Regions from separate parts of the Homo sapiens genome. Here region 1 is linked to region 2. Evidence: fine-mapped expression QTL. A gene starts in region 2. The other region holds a variant in brackets. All regions are shown on one strand. Distances are between the middles of the regions.

Evidence for each region. PIP is the estimated chance that this variant, and not a neighbour inherited with it, causes the effect.
Region 1: its variant is the best candidate, but not a certain one, in a credible set for the expression of RAB3IL1 in whole blood (INTERVAL, PIP 0.68).

What each region holds. Positions count from the first base shown.
Region 1 is chr11:61,854,176-61,859,539 of GRCh38, reverse strand. FADS2 (fatty acid desaturase 2) reads right to left here. Exons shown (of 12, transcript NM_004265.4): 6 at 2,469-2,529; 7 at 2,010-2,086. Among named protein-coding and RNA genes, the nearest start is that of MIR6746, 21 kb to the left of the region's middle. RefSeq lists an enhancer at 2,046-2,547. The variant C/T (reference allele first, on the strand shown) is at 3,219.
Region 2 is chr11:61,914,937-61,920,300 of GRCh38, reverse strand. RAB3IL1 (RAB3A interacting protein like 1) reads left to right here and starts at 2,735. Exons shown (of 10, transcript NM_013401.4): 1 at 2,735-2,944. The coding sequence starts at 2,934.

The DNA of each region.
Region 1 (5,364 bases), 61 kb after region 2:
AGAAGAGGAGAGGACTTACATTGAATATGTTGGATTTGCAATGGCTGGGACACCTCCAAATGGAGTTAGATTGGATATATGGGTCCAAGACTTGGAGATAAAATTTGACTTGGCTGCTCTTAAATTCACAGTCAGGGTGAAAAGGACAACTTCAGTTAGCAAGCGATAAAACAGTAATCAACAGGCCGGGCGCGGTGGCTCACGCCTGTAATCCCAGCACTTTGGGAGGCTGAGGTGGGCAGATCACCTCAGGTTGGGAGTTTGAGACCAGCCTGACCAACATGGTGAAACCCTGTCTCTGCTAAAAATACAAAATTAGCTGGGCATGGTGGCGCATGCCTGTAATCCCAGCTACTTCGGAGGCTGAGGCAGGAGAATTACTCGAACCCAGGAGGCAGAGGTTTCGGTGAGCCGAGATCACGCCATTGTACTCCAGCCTGGGCAACAAGAGCGAAACTCCACCTCAAAAACAAACAAACAAACAAAAAACAGTAATCAATAAACAAGTCCACATTTGGTTAAGAGAGGAAAAACTTCCCCATGGCTATTGGTTGGAGCATGAGGGACAAATAGACTGCTGAGAAAGACTGGATTTTAAGCAAGCATTTCAGAAAGTGACAATTTAGTCTTTGATAATTTTCAGATAAACAATTTATCTGCCGGGTGCAGTGGCTCACGCCTGTAATCCCAGCACTTTGGGAGGCCAAGGCGGGTGGATCACGAGTCAAGAGTTCGAGACCAGCCTGGCCAACATGGTGAAACCCCATCACTACTAAAAATACAAAAATTAGCCAGGCATGGTGGCCGGCGCCTGTACTCCCAGCTACTCAGGAGGTTGAGGCAGGAGAATCGCTTGAACCCAGGAGGCGGAGGTTGCAGTGAGCCGAGATCGCACCACTGCACTCCAGCCTGGGCGACAGAGCGAAACACCATCTCAAAAAAAAAAGATGACGTAATTACAATGGGCCCTAATGCAATATGACCAATGTCCCTATTTTAAAAAAAAGGAAAAATTTTCAAGAATCCACTTTTGGTGAAGAAAAAAAGAAAATTAAAAAATAGGCCAGGCGTGGTGGCTCATGCCTGTAATCTCAGCACTTTGTGAGGCTGAGGCGGGCAGATCACTTGAGGCCAGGAGTTCGAGACCAGCCTCGCCAACATGGAAAAACCCCATCTCTACTAAAAATACAAAAATTAGCTGGGCATGGTGGCCGGTGCCTGTAATCCCAGGTACTTGGGAGGCTGAGTCACAAGAATTGCTTGCACCCAGGAGGTAGAGGTTGCAGTTGAGTCGAGATCACACCACTGCACTCCAGCCTATGTGACTCTGTCTCAATAAATAAACAAATAAACAAAATAATTTTTTTAAAGAGGGATATTTGGACACAGATACAGATACAAATATGCAGAGAGATGATGTACCGAGAGGGAGGACGAAAGCCATCAACCAGCCGATGAGAGGCCCAGAACAGAGCCTTCCAGAGCCCTAAGGAATCCACCCTGCTAACACCTCAGTTTTGGACTTCCGGTCTCCAGAACCGGGAGAAAACACATCGCTGCTGCTTATGCCACTCAGTTCGTGGTGCTTTGTCATACGGTCTTCGCAAACGACCACACCTGTCATCTCAGCCAACGCCCAGCTGCTCCAACTTCAAACCAGGGTGTGGGGCAACCCAGTTCATGGGACTCAGGGCCCACAGGGAGCGGGGAAGGGAGATGGCCACACTTGCCTCTCATCCTGCTGCCTTTGAGAACTTTCTCGGGGGCTCTGCAAAAGCAGGGGCTGCCCCAGTGGACTCCCTATGTCTGAGGGAGAGTAGAGATCTTTAGGACTAGGTCCTGGTGGCCCCAGAGGGAGTCCTTTCCTGAGAGGCAGCTACCCCAGGGAGGAGATGCCTGGGGCCCCACAGGCTCCACTGGGGCACACGAGGAGGCAGCGTAGGACCCCCGGGTCCCCCTGTCCCAGTCACCCTCCTCCCCATGCCAAGCCAGCTGTGTCCCCAACTCACCACCCAGTTCTTATGGACGATCATGGTCATGATGATCTGGTACTGGAAATACATGGGGATGAGCAGCGGCGGCCCAACTGCAGGAGAGAGACAGGCGCTTAGAGGCATCCATTCCACCCTGCCTGTGCCGGAAGGTCAGGGGAACCCAGGCCCAGCACTGAGTGCAGGGGCCAGCCCTGCAGACGTGGGCAGAAGCAGCCAGGGACCCCGGGGCCTGCAGAGAAGGCTGGGAGCCCTTGAGGACGTGTGTCACCCCTGGGACTCTCTGAGCCTCTGTGTCCCCATCAGGCCTGTAACACAGGCTGAGGGGTCTGCACAGCAAGGCTGCTGTGGCCCCCGCTTCTAACAAGTTTAGTGTCACTTTCTGGATCTGAAAAAGATGTCAGGTAGGAGGGAGAGACACGCCACTCTGGGGGGAGGGGAGGGTCCCAGAGTGATTTCGGGGCGCCGAGCACTCACTCAGGAAGAAGTATTCGTGCTGGTGATTGTAGGGCAGGTATTTCAGCTTCTTCTTGCCGTACTGAGGAGAGAGGAGAGATCATGAGCACCCAGTAGCCTCAGCTCCCAGCCTCCCATGTTCCCCAACCCATCCTGCAGCCACCATCCCTTCTATCTGCTCAGGGCACACCACTGTCCCTTTCCTGTCAATCTGCACCCTGGGCCCACCAAGCCTGGGGCCCCTCCAGCCCTCTGGGCTCCCCATGCTACAGCCAGCAGCGGCCAACGCTTCCTCAGCCCTAGCCGAGCACTGGCCCGATGGCATCGATCCTCTACAAGGCCGGCACTTCTGAGGCTGAGGCTCAGCGTTAAGCCATGGCCCAAGGCCACAGGAAGTGGCCCTGACTGGGATCAGAACCCAAAAAGCTGACTCTGAGCCCATGTGACAGGCACTAAACAAATGTTTGTTGAATGAATGTGCAACAGAGCAACTCTCGGCGGAGCATAAGCACCCAGGGGAGTTCCTAGGTCACCATGGAGAGCTCCCGGAGCCCGCAGTGGCAGGGAGAACCTAGGTAAGGGCCCCAGAATTGCTGCCAGTCATCAGGCTGGGAGCATCTGCCTCCCTGGAGCCTCCCTGTAATTTACAAGAGTGAATCACTCCTCCCCAGCTGGAGCCTAACCTTGAGGACAGAGGAGGCCACAGCACAGACTCCTCAGGCCACATCTGGCTACCTGAGGTCCCCATGACGGCACCGGTTTCTTCCCCAT[C/T]AGAGCCTGCACCTTGGGCAGCCTGATGCCCAGAGGCTCTAATGGAGGAGGGCTGGGCTGGGTCCTGGGCATCGTCATTGTCCAATGCCAGGCATAGGAACCACGGCCCCAGGGGATCCCTGGAGCCCTTAATTCCATGGTCCAGCCCCTAGGGACCAGCCCACCCTGCACTTCCAGGACTGAGACCAAAAGATGCCGCTCACTGAGTGACACCTGCTCCTCTCCCTTGCAGTGTGGGGAGGCTGGGCTTGCAGCCAGCAGATGCGCTTGAGCCGACTCTGCCTCTCACCAGTGCTGAGACTATGTGAGTCGCTTAGCCTTGCTGAGCCTTGTCTGGCATTTGAATCAGTGGTTGGTAAGAGGAGCCAATGAGAACATGGGCATAATGCCAAGTGCTGACCCCAGGACACTGCCCGTCACCCTCCCTATACCCCTGGATCCGAAGGCCAGAGATGCCTCCTCCTATAGTGTCCAGTCATACTTATTGCAGTCAGGAGGTCAAAGTGAGTTACAGAGGGAAGGGACCTTGGATGATGCCTAGGCCAGTGCCCCTCTCATCCAGGTGAGTAAAATGATTGTCCAAATCACAGGGAGAGCATGGATTCCTGAGGGAAGAGGCTGTGGGTGGGAACCAGGTCCACCCTGTCCCCAAGGCTTGCATCTTGGCGCCAATGGCCATGGTCACGGCACAACCAGCTGAAGAACCCCCAGAAACAGTCCCTTTGTTCTGTGTGGCCTCCTGAGCCTTGGCAAGGATCTCACTCATTCCCAGAAAGGACGGCCACTTGCAGGAAGACTATTATTAAGGCCAGGGCTGAGGCCGGCCATGGAGAGGTCCGAGCCAGGGAGGCCTCACAGGAGCCTTTCATGAGTCTCCAGTGGACGGAGTTGCTGGAGGAGCCAGCACTGCAGACGTTGCTCTCGAGGTGGCCAGTCTCGGGGCCTGCAGTGGCCCACAGAACAGGCCCCTGAGTCCTGCTCTAAGCTTCTCCCAGAGGCCAGGGAGCAGGCTCATAGCCCCAGCCTTGGCATGCAGTGTCTCCAGCTCTGCTCAAGAGCTCCTCCCCACCGCATCTCTGTCCCACAGAGCATCCCATCCCTCTCGGGCTGGGCCGGCTGTACTCGGAAGTGAGCACAGAGGGCAACCCAGGCAGGTCAGCAGGGGCCAGGGCATCCTATGGAGGGACTGAGGGCTGGCCACGCTGTTGTGGGGGCCTGGGAGGCACCTGGGGAGTCTGTTTGGAGCTGCATGTGCACAGTAGGCACCCTGTTCTCATGGGTGATGGTGGCCTGTGGGTGGACAACACAGGTTACAGGGGCTGCCTCTGCTGGTAAGCACTGCTGGCTTTAGTGTGCGTCCCTTCAATGCCCCAGAATGACCCTCGGGAGCCAGGGGGTCCTGCTTGCCAGGCAGCAGCAGGCCTCAGAGTGGGCCTCTGTGGGACGGTGAGCAAAATGCTCATCACAGTCACGCACGTGTATGTACATGCGTATGGTGACATACCACTACACATCTGTGCCCATCTCGATGGCCTCAGCTGCAGCGGCTCTGCTGGGGGATGGCCAATACTCCCCTCCCAAACCAGAAAGTACAACTGTGGGTTTGGGATACGAAGCCCTGCCCTGTGGCTAACTCTCTGCTCTCATCTTTCCCACGCTCAGTTCTTTGCCAGAGCTTTGCCGTTTAAGTCATGGGACCAGGGAAGGGAGGGAGAGGTATTTTAGAATGTAGCAAGCTAGGGGGGTGAGTGCCTGGCTGTTTAATTGATCAGAAAGCTGGGGCTACCCAACAAACATATTTCACAAGGGCCCCCAGGACTCCGAAGCTGTGGTTTGCAGCCAGATGGTTTGGGTTCGGACAGTGGTGTTGCCTTTTCCTTGCTGTTACCTTGAACAAGTCACTTCATGTCTCTTGGCCTTAGCTGTTCCATCCATGAAATGGGTCGATGACAGCTCCCGCCTCACGGGTTAAGCAAGGATTAAGTGACGTTGTGCACGCACACTGCCCATCACAGTGCCCGGTCCACAGACTCACTCAACAAGAGTCAGGCTTCTTCCCAACTGGGGGCTCAGAGCCCCAAGTGTGGGGAGTGGAGGACCCCACACATCTCCTCCTCCAGAGGAGTCCCCGTCACACACACAGAGA
Region 2 (5,364 bases):
GGAGATAGCAAAGGTTAGTGTGAGGCTCAGCCTGGTGGGGGGAAGAAGGCTCCTGCTACCTCCCTTCCCGGCACCCTCCAGAGGGACCCTCAGTCTGGCCTTGCAAGCATGGACTCTTCTGAGGAGCACGCTGGGTGCCCCGCCCGAGGGACATGTCCCGTGTTCCTGGCCATGAGTGCAGGGACTGTCCGCTACGCCCCATCAGGCCTGTGCCCTGTACTTGAGGGGAACTTGAGAGAAGAGCCCTGGGGCACAGACAGGTGAGCTCAGGACCTGGGGCATGGAGGGGAGGGGGAGTCTTGGCAAGCTTCAGGGCAGCCAGTGTGAGAAGCTGGGCTCAGAGAGTCCTAGGCAATGGCTCTGATTGTCTTGTCCAATTTGGTGGCTGTACAGAGGTGGAGACTGAAGCTCAGAGAGGGCAAGACACTCATCCTGGGTCACACAGTGAGCTGAGGACACACCTGTAAGTCCAGAATCAGGGCCTGGGTTGTCCAGGCTGACTGTCTCCTGCTCCTCAGCTGCCTTCAGCCAAGGGTCTGTGGTCAAGGCTGCCAGGCTTGGGATGGAGCAGGCAGAGGGAGATAGAGGGAGGGAGGCTGAGGAGGGCAGTGGCTTGTAGGCAGAGGACACAACTTTTATTTATCCCTTCCCTGCCACTGGCCAGACACCTAGCATGTGCTCAGGAACCTCTTGCTGCCTGGCTGCACACAGCTGCAGCTGCCAGTGAGCCTCTAGTTTCTGGGTGGTCTTTTTGGAAAACGGGTGTAAGAGGACTCAGCCCCACTGCCCCTGGCTGGTGTGATATCAGGCAGGTTCCTTAACTTCTCCGAGCCCATCCTTTTCAACTGAGGAGCAAGTTCAGCTGAGCAGGAGGGTCCTCCCTACTGGGGGAGGCAGTGAGCCCTAGGAGTCCATGGTAGCAGGAAGCATGGATGACAGGCTATTTTTGGTTAGAAATTGAGTGTGGATGCTTCCAGAGTGGTGACCACAGACTTGTCCTTCAAGACCTCGCTCAAGGGCCTCCCCGGTCCACCAGACCTCCCAGGCTGAGGACTCTTCCTCCAGGGACATAGCCCTGAGCTGACGCCTCCTCCACCCTTTATCTCCCACTGGTCTGGGTTGCCATGACTTATCTCCTGCCGGGGCTTGTGAAGACTTGGAGGGCAAGGGCCCTGTGCTGGGTTCCTTTTGTGTCATTTTCTCCTCCTTCTCTAAATAGTGAACAAAATAAGGGCCAGGAAGACAACAGTTGCTCAAGACCAACTGATGAGGGATTCAAGCCAGCAAACACATGTGGACATCTGCTTTGGGTGGGCCAGACCCTGAGCTGGGCTGGGGGTGGGGTAGGGGAACATAGCTCCAAGAAAGAGAGAATCCCTGCCCTCTGGAAGCCGTGGCCATGGAAACAACTGCCCTGCTGAGTGATGGCTATGGGACGCCTGGGCTGAATGATTCTAGAAAGTTGGAAGGGATGCTATGGAGAACTGCCTAGGTTGTTCACTGCACAAAGTGCTGGCCAAGGGAGCAAGCAAGGCATAGAATCCAGCCTCGCCTCCACTCTCCAGATTCCATACCTTGCTGTGCGCTGTGCCCAGCGGGGAAAGAGCATTGTCTATTTGTGCCCTGGACGTGGAGGTCTTAGAGAATACGTCCCCCATCCTCCATCCTCCACCAACGTGGAGCCCCAGGAGGGCAGAACCTATGTCTGTACAGTTTCCTGCTGGGTCCCCAGCCCCTTGCATGCCCCATAGTCTATGCTCAGATGGAGTGGCTGAATGTATGAATGAGTAGAATGAATGAATAAAATGTATCCTCAAACGAAGATCTGACTAACTTGAGCCTGCGGCCTGAGTCAGTGGGCCTGGAGGGGTAGCACTGGGACCTCTGGTAGCACCTAGAAGGGGAAGTACCTCCCACCACGCTCCCAGTCCTCCCCTAGACAGGGAAGGTGGGAGCCATGGTACCTGGCGGGAGAGAAGACGGGTTCTGCTCTTACTGGTCCAGTCCCAGGCTGAAGTTGAGACGAATGATCAGGACTCAGAATGGGTGGGACAGAGGAACTGAGGGACAGGTAGACCAGTCGTCTGGGATTCAGGGAAGGTTTCACGGAGGATGTGGGACCAGACAGGTGTGTGTATGTGTGTGTGTCGGTGGGGGTGGGGTGGGGAATACTATCCAGAGGGCAGATGGTGAGTAAAGGCAGGGATGGGCAGAGCGTGTTAAGTGGCAGGAGGCTGAGTGAGGAGAGTTGGACCAGAAGTGGAAACTCCTTCGGGATAAAACTCAGAGAGTAGGACTCAGAAAACTTGTTTCGGGTTTGTCCCCTCCCCTTCCCAGCAGGCAGGATGTTGCACAGGGACAGGCACTAAGCAGACAGCCTAGGGAAGGAGGGCCGGGTGAGGAGGGGGGAGGGTGTCTGCTGGCCTTAAGTGACAATCTGTGTGAGAATCGAAGAGCTGAGAGCTCGGGAGCCATTGTAGGTTCTTGAGCAGGGGTGGCCCAAAGTGGGTGGTGCGGAGGGCGACTGGAGAGGAGGAGTCAGCTGGGGAGTCTGAGCGCGGCGCGGCCCGCGGGATGTTGGGGGCCGGGTTCCCTCCGAGCGCCGTGGTCTCCCTGTCCCGGCGCGGCGGGCCGGGTGGGGCCAGGCCTTGGGAGCGCGCGCCGGATCCCAGCGCCGGGCCGGCGGAGGGGCGGGGCCGGGCACGTGTCCTCGGGCCGCTCCCCCCTCCGCCACGTGACCCGCCCAGGGCAGGGTCGGGGCTGGGCTGGGGGCCGCGAGCCCAGGCGTCTGAGACCTACTGACCGGCCGCGGGCAGGGCTGACAGGCGGTGGGGCGGCTCGGCCCCTGGCGGAGTCGGCGGCGGGCGGGGACGCGGCGCTGGGAGGACGCGGCGGCGCTGGGAACGGACGCCTGGGCGCCCCGAGGCGCCGGGATGTGGAGCGGGTAGGTCCGCGCGCGCTCGCGGTCCCGCGCTGGGTCTGGGCCGCGGTCGCCTCCCGGGACGGGAGGATTTCGGGGGTCCCCGCCGGGTCTGCGCCGCCACCCGGAGGTGCTGTGCGCCCCCGCCCTGCCTGCAGGCGAGCCGACTTGCAGCCAGGAGACTCCGGGGGAGGGGTCGGGGGTGTCTCTCGGGGTGCAGGGTGCGAAGGGTGGGCAGCCGACCGTCCCGGGGTGACAGCGTCAACTCCTCTTAGCTCATCAGGAGCGCAAGTGAGAAGAGTTGGGGTGTGGGGAAGAGTGTGCACGACTCTGGGGCATGCACCTAGAGGAAGGACCCCCAGCCCACCCTCCCAACCTGTCCCTCAACCCCTTCGCTGGATGAACTCTTGGAAAGCAGTGTAGCTGGGAAAGAGGGGCTGGGTCTTTGCCAGGGTGGCTCCCAAGTTGAGGGCAGAACCTCCTTGTGGGGCTCTGGAAGTACGGAGGCTCTCAGAGGTGTGGAGTGGGAACCCCCCCCGCCCCGGCCCCGCAGCCTGGAGTGGGGTAGCAGAGACTCTGGGTCCTGGATTAGTGGCCCCAGTGGCTGTGTCTGTTCAGGCCACTGGTTCTCAGGGGCAGTTGCAGTTCCTGGCCCATCTGATGTGGGACCCCTGCCCTGTATGTGCAGAAAGGTTGTGGTGTTTTTGTGGAGTTGGGCAAACACTTCCTCTTCCCCGTGGCCGGGAAAGACCAGGTCGTGGAGGAAATGTGGCCAGAATGGGGGACAGGTTGTACTCCTGTGCCCCCTGGGCCAGATGAGTGGTCCCAGGAGAGGGCTACTGCCCAGCTACAGCTGGGGAGTGAGGGAAGCCCCCCGGAAAGGCAGGCAGGATCCACTTCACTCCATGGCACCTAGCAAAGGTTGAGCTGCGATGCTAGGGGAGGGATGGCCTTTCATCCCCAGCAGGGGGTGTGGAGAGAGTGGGCTCCTGTTAGGGGTGAGGTGTGGAGAGGCTTGGGACTTTTTTTTTTTTTGAGACGGAGTCTTGCTCTGTCACCCAGGCTGGAGTGCAGTGGCGAGATCTCAGCTCACTGCAACCTCCGCTGCCTGAGTACAAGCAATTCGCCTGACTCAGCCTCCTGAGTAGCTGCGACTACAGGCACACACCACCACACCCGGCTAATTTTTGTATTTTTAGTAGAGACGGGGTTTCACAATATTGATCAGGCTGGTCTCGAACTCCTGACCTCAGGTGATCCACCAGCCTCAGCCTCCCAAAGTGCTAGGATTACAGGCTTTTACCACCACGCCCTGCCCTAAGACTTGAGACTCTTTTTTTTTTTTTTTTGAGACAGAGTGTCACTCTGTCGCCCAGGCTGGAGTGCAGTGGCGCGGCTCAGTGCAAGCTCCACCTCCCAGGTTCACACCAGTCTCCTGCCTTAGCTTCCCGAGTAGCTGGGACTACAGGCGCCCGCCACCACGCCCAGCTAATTTTTTTGTGTTTTTAGTAGAGACAGGGTTTCACCATGTTAGCAAGGATGGTCTCGATCTCCTGACCTTGTGATCCGCCCGCCTCAGCCTCCCAAAGTGCTGGGATTACAGGTGTGAGCCACTGCACCCGGCCTGGGCTTGAGACTCTTAAAGGGAGAGAGTTGAAGGCCACTAGTGTATTTGTTGGCATTGTGCTTGGAGGAAGGAGGCTGGCTTAGGAGAAAGTGCTTGAGGTGGGTTTGTGGTACCTGGAGAGGTTAGGGCAGTCCTGCCCGGGGTGAATTGTGTTTGGGGAGCAGCCTCGTCTGCCGGAAGCCTGTGTCTTGTGCCGGCTGGGTGGACTCAGGCAACACAGCCCCTGAGTTAGTTGCTGTGTGACCTTGAGAGTGTGGACTTCCTTCTCTGGGCCTCTAGGTAAAATAAATGGTTTCTGGGGTGGGAGTGATCGCAGGTCAGAGAATGTCCTTCCCTGGAGGCACCCAGGCCAAGGCCAGACACAGCTGAGAGCCACCAGTAGATGGATGGTTGCTTCAAGGAGAGTCAGAGAGCCTTATATCCTGGGCAGGGACCCCTCCCCACCATCCAGCCCCCCTGCCATATTCCCAGCAACACTCTGGATGAGCCAGCTGCCAGGCTGACCCCCACAGAATCCTCAGTATGGCTCACTTCCTGCATGCACCCCTGCACCCCCAGGGGCCTAGCTGGGTGCTGAGCTCATATCATAATGGGTGCTTCATAAATGCAGATGGAAAGGATGAGGGGCAGTGAGAAGCTGGCGGAAGGGGTGAGGCAGAGCTTGGGGGTTACCTTGAGCTCTGTATTTTTATGGCCCCCCATTTGGGTGAGGAAACAGGGATTTAGAGTCAGGGGCCAAGCTGCTAGCCCCCACTGGGTGCCTGGTGTCCTAGGAGCTCACCCAGACCCCAGCAGCAGTTGGGAGGTGTCCTGTTCA